Linked DNA regions of Homo sapiens: region 1 is linked to region 2. The links come from fine-mapping of genetic effects on gene expression. A gene starts in region 2. The other region holds a variant in brackets. All regions are shown on one strand. Distances are from middle to middle. Region 1 has its middle 20 kb from the start of MAPK3. Region 2 holds the start of MAPK3 (mitogen-activated protein kinase 3).

The links.
Region 1: its variant is fine-mapped to the expression of MAPK3 in whole blood (TOPMed, PIP above 0.99).

The regions. Positions count from the first base shown.
Region 1 is chr16:30,141,946-30,144,851 of GRCh38, forward strand. No RefSeq gene overlaps it. Among named protein-coding and RNA genes, the nearest start is that of MAPK3, 20 kb to the left of the region's middle. The variant A/C (reference allele first, on the strand shown) is at 1,280.
Region 2 is chr16:30,121,560-30,124,465 of GRCh38, forward strand. It overlaps MAPK3 (mitogen-activated protein kinase 3), which reads right to left and starts at 1,661. Exons shown (of 9, transcript NM_002746.3): 1 at 1,481-1,661; 2 at 265-447. The coding sequence starts at 1,650. RefSeq lists a silencer at 1,653-2,022.

The sequences.
Region 1 (2,906 bases), 20 kb after region 2:
ACAACTCCCCTCTCTCCCCTCCCCTCAGCCCCTGGCAACCATCACTCTACTTTCTATCTCTATGACTCTGACTCCAGGTACCTCACATAAGTGGAATCATGCAGTATATGTCTTTTGGGGACAGGGTTATTTCACATAGTATAATGTCCTCAAAGTTCAGCCATGTTGTAGCATGTATCAAAATTTCCTATTTTAAAAAAAATTCTGAATAATATTCCACTGTATGTAGGTAGCACAGTTTGTTTATCCATTCACCCTTTCAGCCTCTGTCTTTATTATTATTATTATTATTTTGAGACAGTCTTGCTCTGTTGCCCAGACTGGAATGCAATGGCGAGATCTCAGCTCACTGCAACCTCCGCCTCCCGGGTTCCAGTGATTCTCCTGCCTTTGCCTCCTGAGTAGCTGGGATTACAGGTGCCCGCCACCATATGCCTGGCTAATTTTTGTATATTTAGTAGAGACGGGGTTTCACCATGTTGACCAGGCTGGTCTCGAACTCCTGACCTCATGACCCGCCCGCCTCGGCCTCCCAAAGTGCTGGGATTACAGGTGTGAGCCACCGCTCCCGAACCTGTCTTCTATATTGGATGCCTTCCTCAAACGTGGTGAATCTTGGGGGTCTGTGCATACTAAAGCTGGAGCTATTAAAAGCCTTTTAAAAGTTCCCCAGGCTGAGGGCACAGTGGCTCATGCCTGCAATCCCAGCACTTTGGGAGGCCAAGACAGGTGGATCTCTTGAGTCCAGGAGTTCAAGACCAGCCTGGGTAACATAACAAGACCTCATCGCTACAAAAAATAAAAAAATAAAGCTGACCATGGTGGCTCACGCCTGTAATCTCAGCACTTTGGGAGGCCAAGGCGGGCGGGTCATGAGGTCAGGAGTTCGAGATCTGTCTGGTCAACATGGTGAAACCCCATCTCCATTAAAAATACAAAAATTAGCCAGGCGTGGTGGTGGATGCCTGTAATCCCAACTACTCAGGAGGCTGAGGCAAGAGAATCACTTGAACAGGGAGGCAGAGGTTGCAGTGAGCTGAGATCGTGCCTCTGCACTTCAGCCGGGGCGACAGAGTAAGTCTCCATCTCAAAAAAAAATAAGAAAAAAAATAAATCAGGCACGGTGGTGCACACTTGTAGTCCCAGATACCAGGAAGGCTGAGGTGGGAGGACGATCGAGCCCACGAGTTTGAGGTTGCAGTGAGCTGTAATTGTGCTACTGCACTGCAGCCTGGGTGACAGAGTGAGACCCAATCTCAAAAACAAACAAACAAACAAA[A/C]AAAAAACCTCTCTCCACTGTGTGGCACTGTGTGCTAGGGGGTGACCTTGCTGGTGGCTTCCCAGGGAGCTCCTGATGTCAGTGTCTTCAGGACTTTCCTCTTGGCTTGATCACAGTCCCTTCAGAAGATTCTTCCAATTCCTGCCTGAAGGTGCCAATTTCTATGTCTTTTGTGGCTTCTGCAAAGAAAACCTAGCAATTTCTCATTTTTTCCAATGCCAGCTCGATTCCACTTCCTTGGTTCTAGTAAATTGGTTACCATGAGTCCCTCTATTAGTACCTGGCTTAAACATTTTTGTTCGTATTGTCTTCTTTCCTATTCTTACTCTTCCTGTGGGTGTGTGGCATTAGAAAGATTCTCTTACTGCCATTTTATTATGTTTGGGGCAAGAACAGAAGTAAATACATGTGTTTAGTCTACTATCTTTAACCTGATGCCTTTTAACTTTTTTTTTTTTTTGAGGTGGAGTTTTACTCTTGTCACCTAGGCTGGAGTGCAATGGTGTGATCTTGGCTCACTGCAACCTCTGCCTCCTGGGTTCAAGCGATTCTCCTGCCTCAGCCTCCCGAGTAGCTGGGGTTACAGGCGCCTGCCACCATGCCTGGCTAATTTTTTTTTTTTTTTTAGTAGAGACAGGGTTTCACCATGTTGGCCAGGCTGGTCTTGAACTCCTGGCCTCAGGTGATTTGCCCGCCTCGGCCTCCCAAGGTGCTGGGATTATAAGCGTGAGCCACTGTGCCTGGCCCCTTCTAACTTTTTAAAAGTAAACCTTGTCTTGGTTAGGCATGGTGGCTCATGTCTGTAATCACAAAATTTTGGGAGGCTAAGGCAGGAGGATTGCTTGAGGCCAGGAGTTAGAGACCAGCCTGGGCAACAGAGTGAGACTGTCTCTACATAAAATTTAAAAAAATAGCCAGGTGTGGTGGTACATGCCTATAGTCCCAGTGCTTTGGGAGGCCAAGGCAGGAGGATCACTTGAACCTAGGAATTCAAGGCCACAGTGAGCTGTGATTGCACCACTGCATTCCAGCCTGGGTAACAGAGCAAGACCCTGTCTTGAAGGAAAAAAAAAGAGTTGTCATATTCTTACCACATCATTATCCACATTATCCACAAAGCAAAGATATGGAATCAACCTAAGTATCTATCAATGGAGGAGTGGATAAATCAACTATGGTATGTATACAGAATGGAATACTATTTGACTATAAAACAGAATTAGGCTGGGCATGATGGCCCACACCTGTAATCCTAGCACATTGGGAGGCGAACACAGGTGGATTGCTTCAGCCCAGGAGTTCGAGACCAGCATGGCCAACATGGAGAAACCCCACCTCTACTGGAAAAAAAAAAAAATTAGCCAGGCGTGGTGGCAGGTGCCTATAATCCCTGCTACTTCAGAGACTGAGGCAAGAGAATTGCTTGAACCTGGGAAGCAGAGGTTGCACTGAGCCAAGATCACTGCACTCCAGCCTGGGCCACAGAGCAACACTCAGTCTCAAAAAAAAAAAAAAAAGTTTTAATATCTGATAGCAGAGTAGGGTGATTATAGTTGGCTGCAATGAATTGTATATTTCAAAGTAACTAGAAGAGAACTTGAATTACTCCCAACCCATAGGAATGAGA
Region 2 (2,906 bases):
ACCATCCTGCCTAGCCCTTCCCCCTGGGGCACAGAGCAGAGAACCCACTTGCTCGAGGCCATACTGCCTGGGCCGCTGCAGGCCTGGGTTCATCAGAGGTCTCCAAGTCCTGTTACACTGTGGCTTCCCCTCTGCAGGAAAGTTTATTTTACTGGGTTTGTTTTGGAGGGTGGTGGGTAAGATGGAAACAGAAACCAAGCAACGGGTCCCCAGCCCAGCTGCGAGGCCGTGCCTGACCAGCCGACTGGCCAAGGTGAAGGATACACATCTCTCATGGCTTCCAGGGTGGACGCCCGCAGAATGTCTCGGATGCCGATGACATTCTCATGGCGGAAGCGCAGCAGGATCTGGATCTCCCGGAGCGTGCGCTGGCAGTAGGTCTGATGTTCGAAGGGGCTGATCTTCTTGATGGCCACGCGAGTCTTGCGCACGTGGTCATAGGCCGAGCTGAGGGGACCGGAGAGAGGCTGCTGCTGTGGCCTTACAAAGGGGGAGTCCGGGCCTGGTGGCCCCACCCAGGCCTTGGCAGGGAGGGGAGAGAGCAGGAGCTGGCTCTGGTCAAATCATAAACAATGCTGGTTCCTTCCTGCTGTGGAGGCCTGGGATCTCCAGAGAGAAAGCTGGGGACCAGCCAGGCGGCCCTTCGGTGACTTTACAAACAGAGGAAGAGACTGACCGCTCACTGACTTCCCCTCTCCTCAATCCCCTTCCATTCTACTGGCCCTGAACCCTTCGCCCCCATTCCCAGGAAAGGCTCCTTAACCCAAGACAGGTCCGGGGGTGCAGATGCTGGGGACACACCATGGGGCAAATACTGGGAAGGTGGCAGCCAGGGGAGGGGCAGGAGAGAATGGACAGGGCAGGGGAGGGTCCCAGGGTGAGGGATCCGGGCAGCGGGGCTGTCCCAGAGGGATAGAGGCCCAGAGCACACGGTGGGGCCGGGGGCACTCACAGACCCCTCCCAAAACATGCAGGTGGCACTCCTGGCCGCCTCATCTCTCTCTGGGCCCCTGGGGTGGTGGGGCCAAAGCCCTGCCCCACCCTGATCTCGGCTCTTCTCCCCCAGGCTCCCTGGCACTGCCTCACAGGGGGAATCCAAGACACCCTTTCCCCCAAAACGGGCCCTCCACTGCCTCTTCACTAAGGATGTCGCCTCCCCGAGAGTACTCATCCTCTGGGCCTCGCCCCGTGTCACTAGGGTCCCCGCGGGCCCCCACATGCACTCGGATGCCCCTCCCATCATTACAGAAGGGTGGACTCAAAGCCTCCAAGCCTGCTCCCCTGAGGACGTAGGCAGCGCCCCCTCCCCCAGAAAGCACTCAGGGGCCCCCTCCCTGGGACGCTCCCGATCATCCCGAGTCTCCTGCCTCCTCGGGACGCTCCGCGTCTCCACGTCCCGGAAAGCGCTCGGCGCCTCCTCCTCCTCTCCCGCGAAGCCCCCTCCCCTGAGGGCACCCCCTCCCCCGGAACGCCCCCTCACCTGACCATGCCGTACGCGCCCTCGCCGATGTACTGCAACTGCGTGTAGCGCGGGCCCACGTCGAACGGCTGCCCCTTCACCATCTCCACCTCCCCCGGGACCCCCGGGCCGACCCCCTCGGTTCTACGGGGCTCCCCGCCCCCGCCCCCCTGAGCCGCCGCCGCCGCCATCTCCACTCCTCCCCTCCCACCGCCCTCCTCCCCACGGCGGCCCCGCCCGAGGCCCCGCCCCTTCCCGCCTGCCTGTCACCCGCAGGGCCGCGCGCGCCAGGCCCCGCCCTTGCCCCGGCCCCGCGTGGGCCTGGAGCTGTCACGTGACCCGCCCCGCGCGCGCCCGCCCTTCTTGCCCCAGGTTCGGGGGCCATGGGTCCCTGCGGGCTCCGCGGCCTCCAGGTCACCGGGAGGTTCGGCAGCGCCGCCTCGGAGACTGTCCTCACCCTCCCCTCGATGGCGAAGCGGCCAGGGCGTGACCTACCAGAGCCACCCAGCCAATGTATGCGGCAGCCCACCAGAACCTGGGCCCGGGATCACCCTAGGTTAAAAATAATGTTCTAATAAATGGATCAAATTTTACAGATGGAGAATCTGAGAGTTAGGTTTACTAACTTGGGTAAGGTCACTAGTAGTGACAGCTGAGACTCAAAATGGTGTCTTCTGACACAGAGACTCTTTCTAATTCCATGCCTCTCAGAGTCCTAGACTGTTTTTATTTTATTATAGAGACAGGGTCTCTCTCTGTCGTCCAGGCTGGAGTGTAGTGGTGCAATAATTGCTCACTGCAGCCTCAACCTCCCTGGGGTCAAGTGATCCTCCCACCTCAGCCTCCCAAAGAGCTGGGACTACGAGTGCGCGCCACCACGCCCTGCTAATTAAAAAAAAAAATTGGGGGGCTGGGCACGGTGGCTCACGCCTGTAATCCCAGCACTTTGGGAGGCCGAGGTGGGCAGATCACCTGAGTTTGAGACCAGCCTGACCAACATGGTGAAACCCCGTCTCTACTAAAAATACAAAAATTAGCTGGGCATGGTGGCACGTGCCTGTAATCCAAGCTACTTGGGAGACTGAGGCAGGAGAATCGCTTGAACCCGAGAGGAGGAGGTTGCAGTGAGCTGAGATTGCACCACTTCACTCCAGCCTGGGCGACAGAGCAACACTCCGTCTCAAAAACAAAAAACAAAAAGAAGAAGAGAAAAAGTAGGGTTGCAGAAGGTAGGGACTGAAGAAAGGCATGAAGGAGAAGGATCGGGGTGAGCTGAGGCATAAAGGCAGAAGCATAACTTGTCCAGCATGGCTGCAGTAAAAAAATGATGAGGTTTCAGCCTGGAGAGGTAGGTTGGGGCCAGATTAGGAAGGCTCTGGATTCTGGCAAGGAGTTTGGATGTTACTCAGTAAGCAGTAAAAACCCTAGAGGGACTTTTGCCAGATCA